Linked DNA regions of Homo sapiens: region 2 is linked to region 1. The links come from fine-mapping of genetic effects on plasma protein levels. A gene starts in region 1. The other region holds a variant in brackets. All regions are shown on one strand. Distances are from middle to middle.

Evidence for each region. PIP is the posterior inclusion probability: the model's chance that the variant is causal. Protein levels are from the aptamer-based SomaScan assay of Sun 2018.
Region 2: its variant is fine-mapped to the plasma level of the SLITRK3 protein (Sun 2018, PIP 0.95).

Annotation. Positions count from the first base shown.
Region 1 is chr3:165,189,283-165,201,740 of GRCh38, forward strand. It overlaps SLITRK3 (SLIT and NTRK like family member 3), which reads right to left and starts at 7,102. Exons shown (of 2, transcript NM_001318810.2): 1 at 6,298-7,102; 2 at 1-1,569. The coding sequence starts at 1,548.
Region 2 is chr3:164,348,688-164,361,145 of GRCh38, forward strand. It overlaps LOC105374189 (a long non-coding RNA gene), which reads left to right. Exons shown (of 3, transcript XR_924657.2): 2 at 12,385-12,442. Among named protein-coding and RNA genes, the nearest start is that of MIR1263, 180 kb to the left of the region's middle. The variant G/A (reference allele first, on the strand shown) is at 5,367.

The DNA.
Region 1 (12,458 bases):
CAGTAAGTTATTATTGAGGAATAGCAGCTTCAAGTTGGGCATGAGGCTGAAGGCTGCAGGCTGGATTTCCCGGATGACATTGAACTCAAAGTACAAGTAGTGCAAACTCTGTAGGCCTCGGAACATGCCTGGTGTCAGCTTCTCTATATCGTTGCCATTAAGGAAGAGGCTCTTTAAGTTGGGCAAGTTGATAAAGGCCCCATCTTGGACATAGGAAATACGATTGTTCCCCAGATGCAAGAGATCCAAGGAAGAAAAATTCCAAAAATCAGAACGGTATATTTTCTGAATCAGATTGCTACTCAGATACAGTTTCTTGGCATTCAAGGGCCTTGGAAGAAGTTCAGAAATGTTATTAAATCCTCGCTCTTTGCAGTTGACAGTCAAGCCAAGGTCATTGATGTGCAAATTACAGGTACACCCAGTGGGGCATATAATGGGGATTGGTGGTCTGGTCTGATAAGGAGCAATGGGAGGCTGGTTTGGACCAGGATATAAAGCTTGGGAGGTGGAGGGTGGCCTTGGTGTTCGAGGCTGTTTGGTGGGCTTAGGCTGTTTATTTGAGGACTTGTATTCGACAGAAGAAGCAGTAAAATGAACAGAGGATAGCATTGAGGAAGGCTTAGTTGGCCATGCATTCTCCTTACTTGATGACGAATGTGGAATTCCCAAACTAGCCTCTACCTCAGAGTCAGACAACAAGGGACAGAGTTCTGTCTTCCTGATTTCTCGTAGGTCCTTTCCATGGAAGTGGAAAGGGGTCTCACAGGTAATGTCTCCCACCAGGGCAGTATAAGGAATGCGTTCCAGCCAACTCTTCAGTTGTACAATTTCACATGTACAGTTCCAAGGGTTTTCTTCCAGCTGGAGCTCCATCAGGCTTCTGCCAATGTGATCTAGCATTCCTCGGTAAAAAAGAACCTTTAACCTATTTCCACGTAGGTCCAAATGGGTTAAAGAGACAGCCTTAAATAAATTGGTTGGAAGCATGGGGATGAGATTATCATTTAAAATCAGAACCCTCAATTTACTTAGGTTCCGAAATGCCCCACTCTCAATACGTTTAATGACATTGTAATCTGCCTGCAGATATTCTAGACTTTCCAAGCCAAGGAAGGTGTCATTTCTGAAGACATCTAGTTTGTTTTCATGTAGATATAGTCTCTTTAAAATCTTAAGACCATTGAAAGCTCCAGTCTGAATGTCCTGCAATGCATTGTTCCCAAGATTAATAGACACAGCATTATTCAAATGAAGAAAACTGTTGGTATATAATTTCCTCATAGAATTCCTCTGCAGATACAGTTTAAAAGGTCTTGACCAGAACTCGGTAATCTGACTAATATTTGTAAATCCTTTACTGTCACAATGTATATGAAAGAGGCTTTCTTTAACTTCACAGTAGCATGGATCAAAACAGGGCTCATCTATTTCCTCTGAGTCCTCTATTAGGGGAATCGGGGTAGTCCATCCTAGAGCAATTGTGCTTAGAAGAATTATCCACAACATCCTTCCTCTGTGAAGCATCTCAGCTATGGAAGGTTTCATCGTTCGTGGTTGATTACAAAACTGCAACAGAAATAAAAATGCAGATTTTTAGCTTTTAGTCATATGTACTATTTTAATTGACTCCTACATGTGGGGCATTTTAAGAGCTATATAAAAACTTCAGCAATTGTTGAAGTGACACTCAAGATGAGCTAGCAACATACTTAATGTTTAGAGTGTGTCCTATATTTTAAACTTAGGAGACTCTGAAATATTGAACCATGCAGTGACATTTTCCTGAACCAAGCCATACTTGGTAAACGGCATATTGCATGAACAAAAGCAGCCTGCATTGCCTCTGTATAACAAACAACAGAACTGGTATATCGTACTTCCTTTTAGGCATAGGCAGATTCAGTAATAATGGCAATAATGTGGCCATCACACCTGTTTGCCTGTTAAAACTCATGTTGACATCAAAGATACTCATAATAAATCTGATTGGAACTCTGATGGGAAAAATATGTTCTTTGAGTTATAGGTTTTGATGATTAAAAAGACATGATATACTCCAAAATTATTATATTGATTAGTGTGATAAAGTATGAGCCTATTGCTCAATATCAGATGTTGAGATGTGTAAAATGATCAGCATCTCAGGAAAACTTAAGATTTATTTTTATGAAATGATCATAACATGCTTTATTACAGTGTATAGTCAGTATGTACACTATATGTCCACATCTTCTTGCCCAATAATACATTATTGTCATCTTCTTTAATTTAATAAATAATTTGTATATATTTGTATCATTTGACTATTTAAAACATGTAGGAGTGATTAGCCCTTCTAAAAAACATGCCCGTGCAATTGTCAGAGCTAAAGATAGGGACAGCTAGAGGATGCTGAGTCTGAAAGTGTCTGAATTAAAACATTTGCAAAACTTAGTTTGGAATGTGTATCTGCGCCTTCAAGATCAACTGAGGAACCCTGTAAAAAGCTGGAAGAGCAGGTGGCTGGTTAGAGGGGAGGTGGGTAGTTAAAGTCAAGAGAGAGTGGAAACCTCTATTCTTACCTGCTGATAAATGATCTATCACACGAAATAAATTTCAAAAAAGATATCATTCTTTTCCAATCAGAAGAAACAAATGCAGTGCACTATTCTGATAACAGTCTTTCTCTATGCATCGTTTTCCTTGCCTAATAACATCAGTATATGAAAATGTTTACATAAATGATAATAATGCAGTTTTATTACACTGTCCTTCCTGAGTCACTAAAATATCAATCAAAATTTAATAGCTGATTTTAATCAACAAAAATAAACCAAAGTTTCTAGCATATATTTTCCTCATAGAGAGCACACAGAAAGATATATTTCATCAACCTTCTTCTTAAACCACAATGATATAATTTATAGGAAAAGTGAAAGAAATAAATCTTCACATTACACTCGCCTATAATGTTCACAGCTGTAAAGAAAGGAGATACCGTGAGAAAGCAAAGAGAAATCTGCCTCAGACATGCAATACTCAAAAATTAAAAACAATTCAGTGAAAAAGAGGGAGAGAGAAAAGGCTACATTGCAGTATCAATTAGTCTTCCATCTCCCTTATGAAATATTAAAATCTACTTAAGTTCTTTCTTCACCATCTTAAATATTTTTCTTGTTTTTCAGGTCCCTATGGTTTAGGCAAAAAAGGCTACAGATGTGTTGGACTTACCTATTTTGCCAGAGTTTTTTTGGGTTTCGGGTTTTTTTGTAATTTATTTATTTATTTATTAGCATGGAACCGTGAAAAGAAAAAGAAAAAAAAAAAGCTTGAGTTTAAGGATTCTCTCTCTTTCCCTCCCCCTCCCTTTGCTTTGCTGAAGCTGAAGCAAAAGGGGATAAAGGGGGTTGGGCGGGGGGACTAAGAGAAAAAAAAAAAAAGCAGCAAGCTTGAGACGTGCTGGGAATGCAATGGGCTCTTCAATGGGCTTCTTTAGGATGCAGAACTGCCGCTTGGCACACTCAGTAGAGGAGGGAGGAGAAGGGGCTGCAGCAGGCTTCCAGCTCTGCTGCCCCTGCCGCTGCCGCCGCGGTGGCTGCTCTCTTTGGGTACCCACAGCACATCACTGGGCACTGGGAGGAAGCACAGGAGGGAGGCAGGGAGGAAGGAAGGCTCAATCACAGTGCAGAATCTCAGACTTCTCTCGCTCCGGCTTTAAAAATATATATGTGCTATAACCCTGAACCCAGCATTCCACGTCATGAAAATGAGCTCCAAAGGGAACGCGCTTAGCATGGGTTCGGGAGCGAGCACTAGGAACCCCTGACTATACAGTTGAGTGAGTGTGTGTGTGTGTGTGTGTGTGTGTGTGTGTGTAGGGAAAAGAAGTAGAGGGGTAGAGAACACAAATTGGCAAAATAAGAAACCAGAGAGAAGGGGGAGGAGACCAACCTATGGGAAACATTTCTTTGGTGAGGAAGGTGGAGATGGGGGAGGGGGGCAGGGATAGGCATTTTCTTTCTTTCTTTCTTTCTTTCTTTCTTTCTTTTTTTTTAAACTCTCAAGGAAACCATCCCCTGAATGATTTGCTCCTTTAGTTTCCAAAGCTCATCTCTCTAGTGCAGGTGGTTTGAAAAGTGAGACTATCCTTCGTAAGTATCATTTTCACAGGACAGCCATTCCCTGCAATGACGGGGATGGGGGGAAATCCAGGTCCCCAAAGCAGAAAAGCTGAATCTGTCTGATTCTGCCTGGGTGTCCCGAATAAGAGCTCAGACAGCCTGAAAGACTTGGACCGAGTTTCTCCTGCATTTTGCTTCGATCCCGTTGCACCAGGAATTCTTTTGTTGTGCTGCAGGTCAAAGCCTTCGATAGCCCCTGGATTCAACAGCATTTCTTTTCTTCCACTTTTTAAAAACAGAGACAAGCCAATTCTCTGGAAGGAGATACAGACCACTTGGGTAACAATGGTACATTTCACATTGCGCCACCGGGAAAGACCTCGCGGGATTGGGGTGGATTTAAGGATTTGGATGCTTTTGTCCGTTCTTTCTCTTTCTTATTTTTTAAACTCAAATATTTCTCCGTGAAATTTTCGGGGAGTGAATCCTAGGGAGTAGTGGGAGTGGGGGTGGAGGTGATTGAAGGAAGATATTGTATTGTAGAGGGACTACCAGATGACAGTTCAGGAACGCTTTCAGAGGAATTTTTTTAAGGCTCAGCTGACAGCACTACAGTCCTGCCTGCTGGGAAGGAATGCAGCTTGGTGGGGAAACTGGGGAGAGCCAAGTGTGCAGCAAAGGAGTCTAATCAACAGGACCCGTGTGCTGTGGATGCTCCCCATCTGCCCCCACCAGCACACACCAATCCTGTCACCAACTCCTCGCCGGGAGGGGAGAAGGCAGGGACTTTTTGGTTGCTAAAGAACTAAACTGAACCTCAATTGCCCAAGGACTCAAAGTTAGTAGGTAGAGATGGTTTTCCCTTAATGGACCCTTTACAAAAGCAAATTTTAAAGCAAAGCACAGCTTACATGTCAATTTCTTACTGCTCTAAAACAGGTAAATCACCTAACAATGTGTTCCTTAAAAGTCAGTCAAAGGCAATTTCCATGATATTTTGCATTTAAAATGACCGCACAGGAGTCCACTGGCAGACAGTAGCTAATTTTAGAAACATGCCACCATACACTAAGTAAGCAGGAGGGCAGAATTTTCTAACATTCTACCCTTAATATTCCAGACTCACCCTATTGCTCCCATAGGTCTTAGCCAAGAAGTAAACCAATACCGATAGCCTAAGCTCAGAATCAGAGCAATTCCCTCTCCCTCCCCAGCTGCCGGCACCCGCACCCTCCCCCCCATCCCCCGCCCAGCACTTTGGGTACCCAATGTGCAGAGGCGGTGACTATTTATCGGGTGTTATCGGAACCCATGATGTGATGGAATCGATGGGTAACCCGGAGGCTGCCCTGAGCTTCCAGATGACGGTAAATGTTGTCTCGGCAATGAAGTCTCTGTTATTTCTTGAACTAAAACCCCTTACGTTCTGGACCTGGGCTGTGTCCTAAAGGCTATCTCACCTTTTTCCTTTTCTTTAGCTCAGGATAGCGCGTCTAAAGGACAGGGAGGGCTCCAAAAGTTAGGGAATATTGAGCCATGGGGCCCCAGTTTTTTCCGTGTCCTGCTGGGAGCGCCCAGAGCCATTTGTTTGTCCAGAGGGAGGACAAGAAGCCCTTTCTCCCTGCTGTGCCCCCTTCCCACTTCCTCCTCCCCACTGCTGGATCTTACAGCTCACTAATTTTTTCAGATCTAAGATTAAGTATTCCAATATGGAAGCAAAACTATCTTCCCTAGAACAAATAATTAAAACGCTGCATCATTCATTTTCTGAAGAGCTTTGAGCCGTCTATAGAGCCTTTTCTAATCTGCTGTCGTCAGGCGAAACGCACAATGGTCTGTTTAGAAACGGAAAATTATTAAAAGCTCAAGCCTTTTTCCTTCTACCTCTTACAACACCAGCGAGCATTCCACTGGGGGAGGGGTCCTTCGCTCCGCCACCTGGCCTATTTGTTGGAGTTACTTACGATGTCTTCACCCAGAAAAGAGGTCCGAGGGTATGTTAGTCTCCGGTACCCCTCCTTCCACCAACGTCCTTACACCTAACTGATCCAATTCAAAACTGCAACAAACCCCTAGCACCTGTGAGCGTACAGAATACACCGCGGCCAAACTCGATGTGCTCTACAATGCACATCCTACATACGAGAAATACTGGTTTCAATTAGGCGAAGTAGGAAAGGATGGCGGCGAGTACCTATGGTGCAGAGCGCTCAGGATCTCCGAGGTTTGCTGCGAGGGGCTACCCAGCAGGAGGGGCAAACTCTCTGCGAAGCTGAATTGTATCCATCATACTGTAGCCTTGTAGCTTCTCCTCTTCTGGCCACCAACTTTCCGAAAGGCTACCGAATCACGCTTGTAATCCGTTTAAATGTTTCCACCTTTGAGACTTGCAGGGAAATGGTCGCTGCATACCAATGGGAGAGCGGGGCGCGCACCTAGCGCGGCGATGCCAGCGACAGGGAGCTCACGACCACAGCTCCCTATGCCCTCGATGGTTGGTAGGCAGGCAGGCAGAGTGAGTGTCCCAGGACTAGGTTCCTTTGATTTAAAATCTCGGTGCTCTGGATCAGTGGAGAGCTTCGTTGTTCCCGAGAGCCTGAGCTCAGTCTCTGGATTTCTCTCTTTCTCTCTTCCTCAAAGGTTGTCACTCACAGCGCAATCCCTGCCCGAGGCCTCCTTCCATCCGAGAAGATGGAATTAGCCCTTGCTTTTCCAGGGTGTCTTTGCTCTTTGCCCTTTAGGTGGGTGGGAGTGGGGGTTGGTGGCGTGTAGATGAGAGAAGAAAAGGGTGGGGAGAGGCGGAAAGGAGGCAGGAAGGGGGCGACTAGATCTCAGATCCCAGCATTGGTCAGACGGCGAAGGTGGGGGGAAAGAAGGAGAGGGGGAGAGAAGATACAAATACACAGTATGGCTGTGCACACCAAATTCCACTTGGATTTGGGAGATCTCAGGCAAAGCACGAAGGTGAAGCGATACCGTTGGCAGAGAGTGAGTCCTCTGACCGCTCACCATTCAAGCACCCTCACTTCTCGAGCGGGAGAAGGTGCGGGGGAGGGGGGTGGGAGGGGGAGGGGACTGCTGAACGTTTCAGGCCAAGGAGACGCTCGCGGCGGCGGCGGCGGCGGCATCTTTTAAGACTGACCTGCTTTAAAAGTGCCACTTTAATGGCCTAGGAAATAACTAAAATCGGATTACACGTTACTTACCAACGTCTCCTCCTAAACTGGAGCGCCAGGTCGTGTATAAGGAGTCAATATAGGAAACGCAGGGCTGGAACCTGAATGCAAATCCATCAGCCGCCCCCAAATCGCGCACCAAGGGAGCGGCGCTCGGGAGCCCCCAGATCAGCCCATCGCCGGAGCTCCGCCAGCGCGTCCCCCCCGCACCCCCGGCCCCTCCTCCGCGCCAACTGTGTAAATCAGCCGCCGCAGTCCTCTCGCCGCGCATCGCAGGCAAAATCCCGGCTTAGGAAGCAAGGAAGCAAGTGATCTCTCTCTCTCTCTCTCTCTCTGTCTCTCTCTCTCTCTCTCTCTCTCTCTCTCCTCTCTCTGTCTCTCTCTCTCTCGCTCTCTCTCTCGCTCTCGCTCTCGCTCTCTCTCTCTCGCTTTCGCTGTCCGCCTTTCCCTCTCCCCCATTATCGGTCACAACCTGGCAGCTCTTCAAGAGACACCCTGTGAAATTGAGTGTCGGGAAGTCAGCATTCTGTACCCGTGGATTGATTTGTAACTTTTATTTGCAAATGAGAGAGATGCCTGTTTGGAAAATTACAGCCCAAAAGGTGGAGGGTGATCAAATTAAGAACATCTGAGCTGTATTGGTGGGCGGTATCGCTAAACGCCTCCGGGGAGCGGTTTCCAAGTGATTTGCAGTAATCCCCCACCTTCATGATACATGGGTGACGATTTGAAAGTACACATATTTCCTCATCTGTTTACATTTGCCGGGGGCGGGGGGCATAAAACTGTAGGGCACAGGGAGTTGGGAGGGGGGCATTTGCCTGAGAGATGCTGGATACCATTTCGCGATAAATTAGATACGGACACTGGAACAATTAATACGTGTAATAACACGTATGTGAAAGTATTATTACAACATTACAGAGGCGACCATTACCCCCACTGCAGTCATACTAATGCAGTCATTCGTTTAATGCTCCATTCAATCTGCAGTGTAAACCAACGCAATTCTTTTTAATAGATCCCTTTCATCAGAGACTGTGTTGGAAAGAGGGCAGTCTTCCACTAACTCCCAAAGTGAATAGAAGGTAGCCTGGGGAATCATCTCTGTATCTCTTGCCATTTCTTCCTGAAGAGAATGCAATACATTGTCCAAGGAAGGCAAAGTTATTTAGCTATTATAATTGTAGGTAGAATGATCTTGAACCTATTTTCAAAAGCATTCAAAGAACTCTAACTCACCCTTTGCAAAGAAACAGTACTCTCTTTTAATTTATGCATAAAATCCTTCGATAGACAGGCCTGGATATATGTTTTACATCTTTATTTAGTGAATTTTGTATATACTATAATTTATACCATCGTTAGTTCATATTATTGACATATAATACCACAAGTTAGTGTCCGTATTACCTACATTAAAAGATAGGAAAGGATGGAGTTGGTCACAGAGACAGCCAGGGGCCTGTGGAATTTTTTGGGATATATACATATACACACACTCTAAATTTAGTATGGCAACTGTGTTGGTTCTGCATAAAATGAATTTAGATTATATATATATACGTGTATACGTGTGTGTATATATCATACTTACAATGTTTTCATTTGTTCTTTAAAATACTCAGCATTCTTCAAGATTATTAAGATTAGTAAAATATCTACAGGGACCCAGAAAGTAATAAAAAGCACCATGTATTAAAATGGATTCTTTTTAAATATAGCATTTCAGACTCACTGGCATGAATTCCAAACCTCTTTCCAGTATTTTCTAGGATAATAAATTCTTCCATGTGAATTTTACATACAGGAAGACATAGATATACAAAGAAAATTTGTCATAGGTGTTTCACTCACTGGGTCGCCAAATTGGGCTTCAAAGTGGTATATCTAGGCAGGGTTGCCAAAGGAGTACATCCCCATAATGAATCAGTCAGATTTAGGAAAAACCAAACTGCATCAGTAGTTTGATGTGTCACAGAGATATTTTTGGCCTTTTCAGGTGGTTGCCCAATTTGAGGAGACTCACTCCTGGATACACCATATTTTATGTGGGCAAGTGTGAAATCACACACATGCCCTTTGAGCCTCAGGGCTGGAGGATATTAAAGTAACCCTGAAAGACATTGGGCAACATCACTCCTAAAGTTACTGAATCTCTTTAACTTTTTGGAACTATTTTCAAGGTCATTTTGATGAGAGAGTTCTGAATATATTAATTTGTTTACTCTGAGCAGATGTTAGTGTGGCCTGATGGTACTGGGGAGCTGCAGAAGATTGAATAGCTAGAATAGGTTGTTAGTGTTAAACATGAGTACTACCCATACAAATATTACAGGCCAGATAAAAATATTGTAGAGTAAGTGATTATGATGGATATTTGATTTTATGTTGTGACTTTTTAGTGCTTTGCATACAGACATTTACATGTCCCTAGTTTTATTTTAACCAAACATCATTTACATTGTGAAAAAGGAGAACTCTCATTTAAAAAAAGATGTTCTTTATTGATGATGCACAATGGATAAAAGGAAAACATAAAAGTAATATATAGGATGTAATTTTTAGTTCAACAAATATTAATTATGTCTACATTGCTGATTGGTTTTTAAATTATAAACATTACAATATTTCAAATAGTTTTAATGATTCTGTCATTTTTCAGAGAGGAACAATGATATTGAAATAACTAAGATAGACTTTATTTTTTGGTCTAGCATATATTTTGCTCATTCTGATGGTTTAAATAAAATAAATACATCTTTTAAAAGATTTACTACTAATTAAACTAGGGTTAGAGAACTGTTTGTTGTATAATGAAGTAGCCACTCAAGAAAGTTCCAAACTTGAAATGTAGCTGTGGTAATCTGTGATTATGTACAGCATGTAGCCATTTACGTATTGTGTTTGTCTGTTTTTAAGCATTGTAAAAACATTTGTGAAGCATTGTAAAAAATTTGTGAAAAAAAACATTTTTTTTTCTCTTTGTTCATTTCAAATGCTGTTTAGGTCAACAAATTGCATGTCTGATAACCATCAAAACCTAAGTGCATTGTCATTTGCTTAACTTTTGATATACCACTGTTGAAACAATTGAAAATATAGTTACACACAATTTTATAAATGGGAACATAGGCTATAAAAGTTAAGCAAATAAAAATGTGATAAAACATGAATTAATATTTTTAGTTTTGTTGTATGTTTATTTCTGTAGATCTTTCTGTATCTCCATAGGAGAAACACTTTTGAAACATTTTATATCGTAGAAAAAGTTCCACACCAATTGATAATTTTGTTTTTTTAATAGCATCTTATAAGTCTTAGTGAATCAGCATAGATTTAACAAGCTATAAGTATGAAGAAGTTATAAAATATTCAATTAAACATTGATCTTTTATATCTTGTTTCACTAAAACATTTTAAAGCACTTTATAGGCATCTTCCAAATGAACCTTCAGCTTCTTTTTGAAGTAAACAAGTGTTTTAATCTTAAAGGTTATGTGAGCTATTTTGAGACAATCAGATTTAAACTATTCAATATGAACAAATGTTTATTTATAGGCTGGATTAAGCACAAAGTTATTTGTCTACTTTTAAAGATATTTTTCAAAATTATTTTGAATTAATAAATTGTAGATGTTAAGATTAAAATTACTGAGAGGGGAAAAAGTTTTAAAAGACTAAGATGAAGAGAAATAAATCAAATGTAAGTTGAAGTAAATTGATTATTGAATAATGTATCAGGAAATAAATGTAGGTGTTATATGTAATGGAAAAAGGCAAATCAGATAAGCTTTAGTGGTAGAAACATATTTTTAAATATGATATTATGAGAGAAGGAAATAATAATTTTATAGAATCATAAAATCTCAAGACTAAGAGGGACTTGGAAGGTAATCTAATCTGACCAATTACGTGATATTAGAATCTACTTCACTGTCCCCTGGCAAGTTGTTATCAAGATTATGTATATACTTTTTTAAATAAACTTTTATTTTTAGTTCCAGGGTACATGTGCAGGGTGTGCAGGTTTGTTACATAGGTAATGGAGCTTAGTGCATTTCAGAGCAGGCCATTTTATTTTTGGACAAATCCAACTGATTGAAAAAACAGTTAAGCAAATTAAAACTTCTACTTTCCATCAATTGTTTTTTTTTTTTTTTTTACCCCTAGATGACTTGTTTAAAAGTCTAAGGTAATGAACTTCCTAGTTATTTAAGTATATATTTATGCAAAGAAACTCACCTGCCAGGTAGAAATGCAGAACTAGTTTTCAAGATATGAGTTTGAGCTAGAGAAGGAGTGATTTAACTTGAAAAAACAACTGAAGCCATGAAACTACAGAATTTGTTGTAAGCAATGAAGTGACAAAATGTTAGAAAGCATTGTAGTGCTTGAGAGTTACTTCTGAAACATCCACAATATTTTAATTAGTCTTCATGGATATCCCTTTGGGAGCACATTTGAAGTTCTGTATGTGTCCTTTTAATCTACTGACTTTAAACCAACTGCATCATAGAGGAACAGTACTGGTATCAGCTACACAAATTAGACAGCCTAAACCATATATGTACATGTTTACATGTAAAACCAAATTTCTCCTGGTTTTTGACTTTTTGAAAGCTATTTGAGAACATGAATATAAAGTGAATATTTTGAAATCAGACTGATTTCAATATAAAGAACCTGATAAAAAATGCTTTCAGCACTAAGTATGGGAATAGATAAAAGTCTTCAATATGATCACGTGCTGGAATTCACAAATAATGGAAATCTTATGTACAGTCTTGCATCTTAAGTATATAACAAGAGTGTAGTGAAACACCGAATTTATTTCTTAATGTCAGTAATTCACAAAGTAGCTTAGTTCAATTAAAAAAAAAAACCCAAAAAACAAAAACTGAAGTTTCTTTGAATTTGGCTCCTTCCCTTATATTGCTGCTGAGGCTTAGGCATCTATAGCTGCTTTTAGCTACTATATTCTATCTAAGTCTCCCTTCACATTTCTATGTTGCTAAACAACAAATGTTTAGTGATTTCCATATCTGTAACTCTGCCTTTTTAGTACTGAAATTGATTTTTTCATATTTGGGCATCTAAAGATAAATATTATTCCATATGCATGTCATTTTTTCTTCATCGTTTGACAAAATACTTTCACAGATGAGTGGTCTGAATT
Region 2 (12,458 bases), 840 kb before region 1:
TGTCAAATGAACTTGGGGAGATCATGGATTCTCTGGAGGCAGGAGCTCCCAGGCCTCAGAAAATTGTTGTATTGGTTTGAGCAATCAAGATAACTCAAAGTGGTGTCAAGCACTGATACAAGATTTGTCAAAGGTCAGGGCTACCTCCACTCAGAGTCCCTTTGTGGTCACCAATTTATAAACCAGAAAGTGTCTGAGACAGGTATCAATCAATTTAGTTTATTTTGCCATGGGTAAGGATGTGCCTTGGAGACAGATCTGTGCCTTTATCCAAAGATAATTTTGAGGGCTTCAATATTTAAAGGAAAGGAGCATGCAGAAGGGGACAAAGGGAGGGTGTGGTCACATTACTGAATTCACATACTGTAAGAGAAAAGGAACAGGTAGGGGAATAGTCAATTATATATCCATCTTGTACTCAGTAAATCAGCATTTTACATAAGATGATGAACATAGAGTAGCTACCTGTGAAGACATTTAATCCCTTATCTATAGGTATCTTCCTAGGAACAGAAGGAAAGGCAGTTTATTGCAAAACTCAGCTTTAAGCCTTATTTTCATTTTGGCATAGTCAAATGGAATCTCGAGTTTTAATTTTCTTTTTACAGAAGAAAAAACAATATCAATGATTATACTTTTGCAGTAATGTAACTATTGGCAATGATTGAGTCAAATATATAGCCTCACATGTTGATGGGGTATAAATTGCTATAACCACTGTGAAACACAATTAACCAATGTGTCTTAGATTTTTACAAAACATTTACTCATAACATTTAATCCACAAATCCATTTTTTAGGAATCACCCTTAAGAAAATAATTACAGAGGTGGACCCATATCTGTGTAAGATGTTCATTAGTAATTTTTGCCACAGTAAAATGTAAGAAACTATTAAAATGTCTATAAAAGCTAATGGTTAAGAAATGATATGTTAACTTTATGATGAAACACTTTGTAGTAGTAGAAGCTCTTTATTTTTTAAGAACATTCACTTACATAAAAGGATATTCATAATAAAATATTAAACAATGTCTGCTTATAATACTATTATATTTTGTTAAAATAGCATTAGAAAACTGGAAGTCAGTACTCTGAAAACTGAGTAATTATTTTGTTTTTTCATATTTTTCAAACTTTACCTTACTTCACTCATCAGAGATTGCTAGTTCTGACCTATACCATTCTCCGTTCTTTATAAGTACTGTAGAATTTCTGTACTTCAGTGTTACAGAGTCTTCCATCAAGAGACAACATTTCCCAGCCTTAGTGTAATCAATTGGTCCTAGATTCTGACCAATAGGCATTAGAAGATGTTTTCCATTGGAAATGCATATATACTCACTACCTATTTTCCCTCACAGCTGACTGGAAGTGAAGAGCTCTAGAGACACTACCTTAGATTTAGGAAAACTTATATTGATGATGTGAAGCCATCCTATTTCCTGAATCACTTGTTTCTGAACTTTTTAATGAGAAAGAAATAAATGTCTTCCTTGTTAAAGCCTCTACATTTGGACTTTCTATTGTAGCCTATGCCATGTACCATAACTAATATGTTTTATAAAGAATATTTTATTACAATATTTTTATAATAAAAGAAATCAAATGGGTTAAAAAAACAGTTTTATTATATAAAATGCATTACAGTATTTAAAAGTCATGAGCTATCTCTAACAGACCGCCTAGCCTCTTCATGCGCTGATTATAAAATTTGGAAAGTATTCTTCATATGAAGCACACACACAGACAAAAGTTTAGGAACATGGCAGTGGGACACAATTCTTTATCTGCTGCAAAGTTTTTCCATTTGACCACTACTGACCTTTTAAAATAGAAATTCTTTCTTGTGAGGGATTGTCCTTTGCATTGCAGGATGTTTAGTGACATTGTTGTCTCTACTCTAGATATCAGTAGCATTCACCCAGTTGTGACAACAAAAAATGTCTTCAGGTACAGCCAAATATCCAATGGGAAGCAAAATCACCCCCTATTTAGAGCCACTGATCTACAGTAAACTTTTACCATGATGAGGAAAAGAGTCATATAATGAAGTCATTGAGATCAGTACTATAAGAGCATTATTAATAGTAAGTGCCTTGGGTAAGACAAAGTTCAGCTCTTTGACCAAACTTCAGTCAGTTTTCTTTGTATCCTCTGATCATGTAGGTCTTGACCTATGGACTTCCATGTTTATCTTTGCATCCCTCTGTTTTAGCAAAAAAACAATTTAGTTGGTTTAGCCAGGATCCCACCCTCAATACCTGATCACTCCCCATGTCTAATCAAATTTCTCATACCTCATCATCAACAAGATGATATCTCATCATCCTTGCCTACCTTCAGCAAAAATCCTGTTAAGTCAACTTAGCCAGGAACCACCTTTTACCCTTGAAGTTTCTCTCAGTAATTTTCCATCCACTATTTGACCCCCTCCAACTGTGTTTCTGGGCTATGAATCACTTTTTCATGTGGTATTCAGAATTGAGCTAGATCTATACTGATGTCTCTTTTCTTTTATTGCAGTAGTTTTTGAGGTTTATTGGTTTTTTGTTTTTTGTTTTGTTTGTTTCCACTTAACTACTGTTCAGGTCAGATTTTTTTTGGCAGGTCCACAGAGAGCTTATATGTGTTGGAAGAAATAAAAAAATTCTGTCAACTAGAGATTCCAGGGCATTTGAGTTATGACTCAAAAGACAGTGGAATTTGGGATATGTATAATTAGTTCAATTCCAGATGCATTGTGTTTTAAATTCCTGAACATATTTTCCTACTCTTAACTTCTTGAATCATTTGTTAAATTCCTACTGTATGCCACACTTTCAGGTAGCCATCCCCTGAAGGAGAGAAATGGACCTCACTCTAGCCCAGTAGGTCCTGTGATGTCCTATGCAATTCTTTTTAATTTTGAAAAGAGAGGGACCAAAGGTCACAGGGCACTTTTACTTTATCATTTGTAGAGTATAAATGTCAGCAATGAGGGAAAAAAGTGTCTCTCTACGTTTGATAATGCCTCCTATCTGTCTTCCTTTAATGTGGATGTAGAGTACGTAATGAACTTCCATCAATAAAGCTCTATTTTTATGACAGTTCAGATTTACTGTTGTAGGCTCATATTACCAAAGATGATGTTAAGTATTAAAAAAGAAAAGAAAACTGTTCAGACTGTGGCACCATTTTCTCTAAGGAAGAAAATAGTTTAATCATTAACAATATTTATATTAATTAGCCTGTAATAGTCATCCTTTTAACCAATATTTTTATAAATATGAGTTTGAACTACTTAGTTTATATTGTTTTGTGCTCATAATTCATAGTGAAGAAATAGCATATGTCACTATTTTTTAAAATTGAATATTTTCTTATTTATTAAAATAATTCAGTTCAAAGTAAAATTGAAATTCTCAGTGCTAAGAAATATTTTTAAATAGTGTGGTTCAATTAAAATAAAAGGGTAAAAAGAACCAATGACAAATATTCATTTTGTTTTCATACCTAGTATGAAGAAACTCTTTCTTTTATTAGAGTAAGAATAAAATTTTAAGATATACTTTAATTAAAATATATAATTTTATATAAAACTATATTATATATTGTATATAAACATATTATTATATATTAACATATTATATATTAATATGTTTATTATATATTAACATAATATATAATAAAGTTACATCTGTCAAGCTTAACAGGCAGAAATTTAAATGCAAAAATATACCACATAGGTGATATTGTAAGAATGACACTTTAATCTGAAGTCAATTGTTAGACTATGATTTAAGCATAGTGTTATATGTATGTAATCCAAGATACAACTAGATTTGCATTGACACATGAGTTTTAGTCATATCAATATTTAGGTCATAATTCCCAGAAGATGACTGGTTAACATGAAAAATTCTCAAAAGTCTTTAGTGTTCTCCCAAGGGTTAGTAAACCTTTTCCTGAATGTGACATTTTGAACAAGAGTAAATTGTTCATTTCTGTGGACATTTTCTGTTGTGATAAAGATTTCCAAGTAAGTGGAGCCCTTCAATTGAGCAAGCATTCACTTTACTGGAGATACTTTCATATACTGTTGTGTACTTTGTGATTCCTAAAAGGTGTATGGTTATTCCAATGCTCACTCATATTTGGTGTTAACCTCACAGACCAACTTTTGTTTCAGAGGCAGATTTAAAATATACTTTTAATTTACTTTAACATCAAATTTATAGTGTAGTAATGAGCCACATACAAAAAGAATATGATGATACAGTTTCTAGCCTATATCATTTCCTTTTACTGTATTTATTTGTTTATTTTCCACTGGTAAGCTATAATAGTATCATCAAATAAACTCAAACAATAACCTAGATACAGACATTGTGTTCTCTAAATAAACCAAAGTCACCCTAATAAATCAATCAAAACTCCCAAGCTGTTTTTGTATGGAGCCACTAAAGCAAAGTTCTTTGTAGCAAACAAAATTGCCAGAGGCTTTTGGCTAATAACTGTTAAATACTTAATGACTCTTAAAAGCCTGAGTCTCCAGCTTTGGTTTATTCTTAAGTATTGAAAGCTTTGTCTGACCTTGAATCCACATCCTTAATAGCCTCAGAAATGATTGTTTTGTCCTCCTTCAGATAGCATTTTCAAAACATATAAATACATGATGTCACAATTAAGAATTTAAGAAATATAACCTCAGCATCTTACCACAAATGTTTTCTTTTAATAATAAAACCAAATCTATCTGCATGTGTCATCTTAGGTTTGAATGGTGACTTGATAATAGATAATGGGCACTTACCAAAATGCATAATCTTGTAAGAAGACCTCAAAAATAAAAATACTACAGAGTACTTTTCTTATTTTTTCAAAGAAAGAGTATGCTCATTAAATTATTTTTAAAGAATTTATATAATTATTTACTCATACCTAATTTCAATGATATAATTAAATAAATGTAATTTGGCAGTATTATATTGTTTTTAAGCTTAAGTGTCATTCTATACATTTACTCTTCAGTTAATTTTCAGTCACCTTTTCATTTTATAGAGAAAAATTACCATAAATACTCAATCTGCTTTCTGAGATGTGATTTTACATTTCATGCAGGATGAGCTGCAGGAGGTTTAAAGTGAAACACAAAATCCATTCCCACAGTATCTCACACAATCTGAATTAGAGACCTTTAACAAACCTCTCCTAGAAGATCCAGACATCTGTGGGATTGCTTCAAACATCTGTTCTAATAACAAAATTATTTTTTATTTTTGAAACAAGAAAATAAAAGCCTCATCATATGTATATTGGAAATTAAACCTAGTTGATTTGAAGGAGTCAGTCAATTAGTCAGTTGATTAGTCAATCAACTGCAAA[G/A]CCATAAGACAAGGTGTTTATTGGGGTTTTATGAATTTCATTTCAGGAAACAAACTCCACTAAAGACCAAATTATGTTCTGAAGAGAGGGATGAGAGTAGAGATTTTTAAAAGGACTCAGAGTGATCATACCAGTTGTTTTGAAGGAAATATCTTTGGTGTAGGCAACAGGCTTAGTACATGTTCATAGTTCATTGGTTGTCACTGTATAAGAGTTGCAGCACTGAAGAAATTCACCTGTTTTCCAGGGTGACGCGATCATGGCACTTTGGCCTTGTTCAAAGATTTAAGACAAGTTAATACAGTCATTCTTAGAATGGCTTCTGAACTCTATCTTAGAGCTGTGAACCAGGAAGACACCTCTTTGTATATTACATTACATTTCACAAAGGTTTAACATTTTACTATCAAGCTAAATATATATTCAAATACCATGGCTGTGATAAGTTAGTATACAGTTATTAAAATCTACAAAAGATACTGTATTATGAAAATACATATCACCTATTTTAAAAGTGAAGTTAAAAGAAGAAACTAATATTTACAATAGTTTAGGGTCTCTGGAACTCAACAAGCATGAGGTCAAATAATATTTATGTCAGATTTAAGGTGATTTTCCTTCTCATACTTCCACAAAGGGTTAGTTAACTATATCTTATAGTCTGAGTAAAATGTTGACATAAAATCTTGTCCCTTTCTCGTATGTTATAGATATAAATGGATTGGAAGATTATAAGTCATAAGATGGGATTGCTGTTGAAATAAAAATATTGCATGATTCGCCTGACTTCTAGATGAAACCAAGAAAAACTGCACATTATCCCTTGCATATTACAGTAAAACAAAATTGGAAATAGAACTAGAACCTGAAAAAAATAAGTACAAATTGGAGTAGATACAGTTAAAACTATAAAATTTATATTACATATATAATACTTGCAACTATAATCTATAAACATACGTGTTCATGGTTATATTCCACTTACTTAAATGCCTAGAGCAAAATATGTAATCTATTTATTATTGAACCACCTAAAACAGTTATAAAACTATCAATAAACTTTTGAATACTGGAATTTAATTAATTATATCAACATTTAATGCAGCGCCTGAGTATAGTGTATAGCTGAGAAAAGAATTAAAACTAATGTAATACCAGATTTCTGTTCTTAAAGAGCTCATAGTCTACAGAATAATTTAGATGTAGAAATTAAAATATGGATTTCTGGAAGAGTACTTAAATATAACAAAAACAGAAAACAAGAATAAATAATCAATAACGGAATTTTCTATAAACTTTTTGTGGAATGTTAAATAATCCAAAATATATCAATCTCACAATAGGTATTTTTTTAAATAGTGCCATTTTGAAATCAATAATTTCAAGCTAGTGTATATCCAGACCTACTCCATATCTCACTGAAACCCTGTCTAAAATATAAAACTAAAAGAACCAAAGGAAAAGCCCAAAAACACAAAGATATTCAAGAGAATAAAGCATTTCCAGCAGATAAAATCGCAGTTAATTTTTCAAAAACAAAGAGGATGAAGGTTGTTTACTGATAATTACATATTACATAAATATAAAATTTAATGTGGGTTGAGGGAATCTTTATTGAAAATGGAGAGATTCAACTGAAAATATAGGCAGCCTATTAATAATCCTTAATTAAAATACAGGATATCCCTTTGGCTAAAGAAAGAATTATTTTTAGGGGCAGGAAAGAATTATTCTGGGGAAAGTTAATTCTTTTAGTGTACGCATTAGTTCCACCAAATAAAAACTTTGCATTGAGGTTTTGGAGAAACCTCATCCTGACAATCCGTTGTCTGACAGCTCTTTCTAATGTGAAATTTGTCCTGACAAAAATACAAACTTCTTACAGTAACAGTTGTCACACTGAGATACCTAGCAGAGAAGGCCTACTTACAATATACCACAGGACAGCTCTCAGCTCTTTTGTTCTTATGCCTGTACTATGAAAAGACAATGACCAAAAACATATGAACAGATCAGTAATATGTTAAAAAAAAATACCAGTTTATAACAATATCAGAAAAAATGCAATATTCGAAAAAGACATAATAATTTGGCAAAGAAAAGAGAACTTTAAAAAACAACTTGAATAAATATACTCACAATAGTAAGACACCCTTAAAGTAAGAATTTTGTGCCATGAAGTGAGCAGAAAACTCTGTATAGTGCTCTTGGAGATTAAAAAGCAGGCAAGGAGGCAAAGTCTTCTTAAAGTTTTGGGGTAATGTTTGTAACCGAGCAGGATATACTCAGTAAAGTATCGAGAAAATATAACATGAAATCATTATCAAACATAAACATCCTTAAAATATTTTTCTCTTTTGTACCCTTCACTTAGAAATTTAGTTGAGATTATCTTCAGCAAAATGGGGAAGTAAATGAAAGAGTAGAAGTGTATAAGATCTAGAAAATGGCAGTGCTATACCAGAGAACATGAGGTTTTCAGGGATGGGAAGATAGGGTTATCAGGAGAGACAACTGATTTTTTAAATGAAACACTTGAAAGAATAATAAAACCTTAATATTTAATAAAAAATGAAAAATTTAGAGGAACAAATATTTTTTTAAAAAATTAACAATTCAAATATAAAGCTAATTAAAATGTGGCCTGATTATAAAAAACAAACAAGAAACTAAGAACATATAAAAAAGTGAGAGAAAAAGAATCAGTTTAGGCTTGATGCTACATAAACAAAAAATCTCCTTCAAGTGCCCTAGAGATCCAGACACATTACCTATAGAGAAAAAAATAAAATCCCAGAACTCTACTTGAAGTGAAAATAATTGCATAATCACAGCAAGATAAATGCCATTAATTTTTTTTTCAACATCTAGGATCAACCTAGGGAAAAAGTGCAGAAGACTTGGCAGTCAGAGAGAGCATGAATATTAATGACTTGGCAATAATAAAAGCAATAGTGTAGATATTGATAGAAGGCAGACCACAGATATTGAGTGAAGGTATTAGGAGAAAAGTTGGAAGTATGTGGAATCTAATAGCATCATCTCACATAAAGTTTTCTTGAAAGACTGAAATAAAAGTGTATTGTTAATAATTTATAATTGAAAAACAAAAAGTATACCAATGTCAGATATTAGGAGGTGTAGGGGGAGGGATAGTTCCAACTTCCATAGCATAAAATTTTTAGATACATCTTGGCACTGAAAATTAAAGCATATCTTGAAACTGCTTTTTCTTGATTACCATAAACTAATTTCCATGTTACTTTTTCCTCCTGGGTTAACTGAAATTACCCAAAACAATTACCACCCTTCAAAATCTGAGCTTTTCCCTTTCTTTGTCACTACCGTAAGTTCTTCATCTCAAATAATCATATAAATCTCAAATGCAAAAACGTATTCTTCACTGTTGATACACTGAGTCTGTGATGGCAACTGTTTCTTTTTTCAGATCTTCAAATGTAAGCTGAGATTCATTTTGAAATCACCATGAGGAATAGAAATCATTTAAATATTGATGGCCTCATTTGTCTCTGCTTTTAAACAGATTAAATAGCTCACAAAAGATTCAATAACAATACTTAGAATTTTAAAGTGTAATGTCAGGGTTCATTAGAAAATCCAGGATAACAGAAAATAGCTGAATTCAAATATACCTGAGATTTTCTTGCTATTTTGCTTTTGTTCTGAATAGTTATCTTATCTGGGCTGAAAAGACAGAAGGTATTGGACAGTCCAGTGAGAATTTGCTACCTAACATCATTGCTTTTCAAGAGCTCAAGATGTTAGTTTTTTTACTCATTGGAATTTTAAAATATTGTCTTTCAAAATATCTCTATTGGTTAAAAAATAAACATAGAAAAATAATATTTGTAGAAATTATGTGAGATAAAGCAAATGTAGATATGAAAATTTTCTTTGCCAAAATAATTACACATGGACATGCACACATCTCAAGATATTTCTAAAAGTCATAACGAACATTTTCAAATATGAACAGTTCAGCCTATACTAGAAGAGAAAGGGAATTGAAATATTCAGTGGATATTAAAACTAAAGTATTAAGAATATATTTAGTCAGAAGTTACTATTTTAAGTTTCAAAAACGATAGAATTGAAACCAGCCCAATTTTCTCATAGAGCTGATATTTACAAGTTTTTATAATAAACATCAAAATTGACCCTCTGTCTTTAAATTTGAAATTTATCTTTGTCTCATCTGAGTCCCTTCCTCTGGAACCCTCAGGCAAGGAACTAAAACTCAGACCACTACATCCAGACAACGAGATGCCAGACCTCTCATCTATGATAATTACTCCTTAGCCCTCCCTAATTTTTCTCAATTTCCCTCACTATATACACTCCACAGTTTTGATCTGTTGGGTAGACAGATTTGAGACTGATACCTTGTTCTCCTCAGCTATAGCACAGGAATAAATCCTTCTTCCCTGGTAATACTTGTTATCTCAGTGATTGACTTTTTGTGCTGTAAGCAACAGATCCTAGGCTGCACCCCTGCAGTTCTGTTGTACAGAACTGTACAACCAAAAGAGTGAACTCTAATGTAAACTTCGAATTTTACTAAATAGTAATGTATCACTATTTGTTCATCTTATAACAAATGTTCAACTTATAACAAATGTAACAAAGCAAGCTATAAATTACAGAGAAACGTGCAGGAAGGAAAGATAATATGGACACTTTTTTATTCAATTTTTCTGTAAACCAAAAACTTCCTGAAAAAAGCAAGTAATAAAAAAAACTTGATAAGTGATTTTCCAAAATGATCACATTATTACAGTCATCCCTCGGTATACAATGAGGATTGGCTCCAGGACATCCTCATGTAACAAAATCCACACATACTCAAGGGCAGTTGGCCTTGTGGAACTGGTTATAGGAAAAGTTGGCCTCTGTATTTGTGGGTTTTGCATCCTGGAAATACTATATTTTCCATGCATGTTTGCTTGAAAACAGTCCACTAAAAGCGTACCTGCACAATTCAGGCCTGTGTTGTTCAAGAGTCAACTGTACTTAGATTTGGCTTTATTCTATCTAATCAGTATTAACCCTGTGTCTTCTAAACCACTCACATTATTTTAAGCAAATGCCCTATATTTGATTTTGGGAACATAGAATCTAGACTACTTGAATGATTTCCCAAAGTTGAATAGCTTACAAGAAATAGAGGCAATCAAATCAAGTCTTAGTTGTTTTGTTTGACATAAGATTATGTTGTATTATTTACTATTAAAAGTAGTTTAAGGAAATACTGGCACTTGCCATACTCAAATTAAGTACAATCACAGACTCCAATGGAAAGGTGGAGCTACAAGAACATACAATAATTTCATAATAGAAATTCACTGGTTTCCTACCTGATTTTAATTAGACTTGTCCTGTTTTTCTTCCCTCCAACCTATGACTACATTTTACCATTAGATTTTTGTACCTAAGTCACAATCTTCATTCTTCAGTTGAACAATAGTTTCTTAGTTAGAATTCATCTCTTTTTTGCAAGCAGTGTGAACCTTCTTAAGCAGTTGTGCCAAAGGAAGAACTGAATATAAAAATGCCTATGTTCCTCTCACACTCCACAGTTTCCAGTATAGCCAAACCTCAGGAAGATACTGGAATTAGGAACTAGAAATTTCTTTCTCGTCATCTACTTTCTGCTTCTGTCTCTACAGACTTGCTTTTTCTGCCTTCCTAAATTCATAGAGGAATATGACTGTCTCATGACACATCAGGTTTTTCTTCTTTAAAACATCCCTAGTTCCCACGTAAAACACAAACTCAATCAGAAATTCTAATTAAAATTTGTCTGAAAGAATAATTTGGACAGGTCTAGCTTTAGGAAGGAATCTAACCCTAAATCTCTGAACCATAAGCAAGTTTGGGAGTGATGAGAGGGTTATAAAATATTAATATGGCTTATGGGGAGTCACCCTGGTAACTAAGGGGACAGTTTTCTTATTAATATTGATCTGGATTAATGTCTGCTATATATTGGTTATTTTACTAGGTAACAAATATATAATGATACATTAAACCCCCGTCTGGGTTGGGCGCAGTGGCTAAAGCCTGTAATCCCAGCACTTTGAGAGGTTGAGGTAGGTGGATCACCTGAGGTCAGAAGTTCGAGATCAACCTGACGAATATGATGAAACCCTGTCTCTACTAATAATACAAAACTTAGCCAGGTGTGGTGGCATGCGCCTGTAATCCCAGCTACTCGGGAGGCTGAGACAGGAGAATCGCCTGAACCTGGGAGGCAGAGATTGCAGTGAGCCGAGATTGTGCAACTGCACTCCATCCTGGGAAAAGAGCGAAACTCCGTCTCAAAACAAACAAGCAAACAAACCAACAAACCCCACTTCTGGATTTCACAGAATGCAACCTCTGAGTGGAGTAATAGGCACATATGTCACTAAACTACTGCATAATAAGATCATACATATATTGGATTCACTGCTGAAAAAGCTTTGATGGTTTCAAATTTTTTTAAAGTTTCAACTTCTCAGGATGGAATCAATGTATTCGAGTATCTAACTTACCTTTTTAATGTCTTTTCCAAACAGACACAATACAGTACACAGTGAATGTGTATCTATATTTTGCTAACTAAATTATATGTTCCTTTAGTGTTGATTTCATTCTAAATGACTTTTCAAGAGTAATTACTGTATTTTATAATTCTGTCATGACACTGAAATAAGCACATACTTAGGTACACTGTGTGCGTGTGTGTATGTGTGTGTGTATGTATAAAATGAACAGATGCACAGATAAATTTAGCCACTGTTTATATTATTTGGTAACTTAAACTTTTAGCGACAAATTTATATTGGTAAATACTGATTAATGGGTTTCACTTTCTGTTTCTGGCCTAGTCAGTCTTTTCAGCCTGTTTAAGAAAGTGATGGAAAAAAATCCCTTATGGTTAATTACTAAATGTTTATGTTAGTAAAAATACATAAAGACATAATCGACTGAAATGTCTGGAAATAATTTATTGCAGGGGACCCCTACCACCAGACCTGTCCGTGGACTGTTAGGAGCCAAGCGGCACAGCAGAGGTGAGCAGTGGGCTAG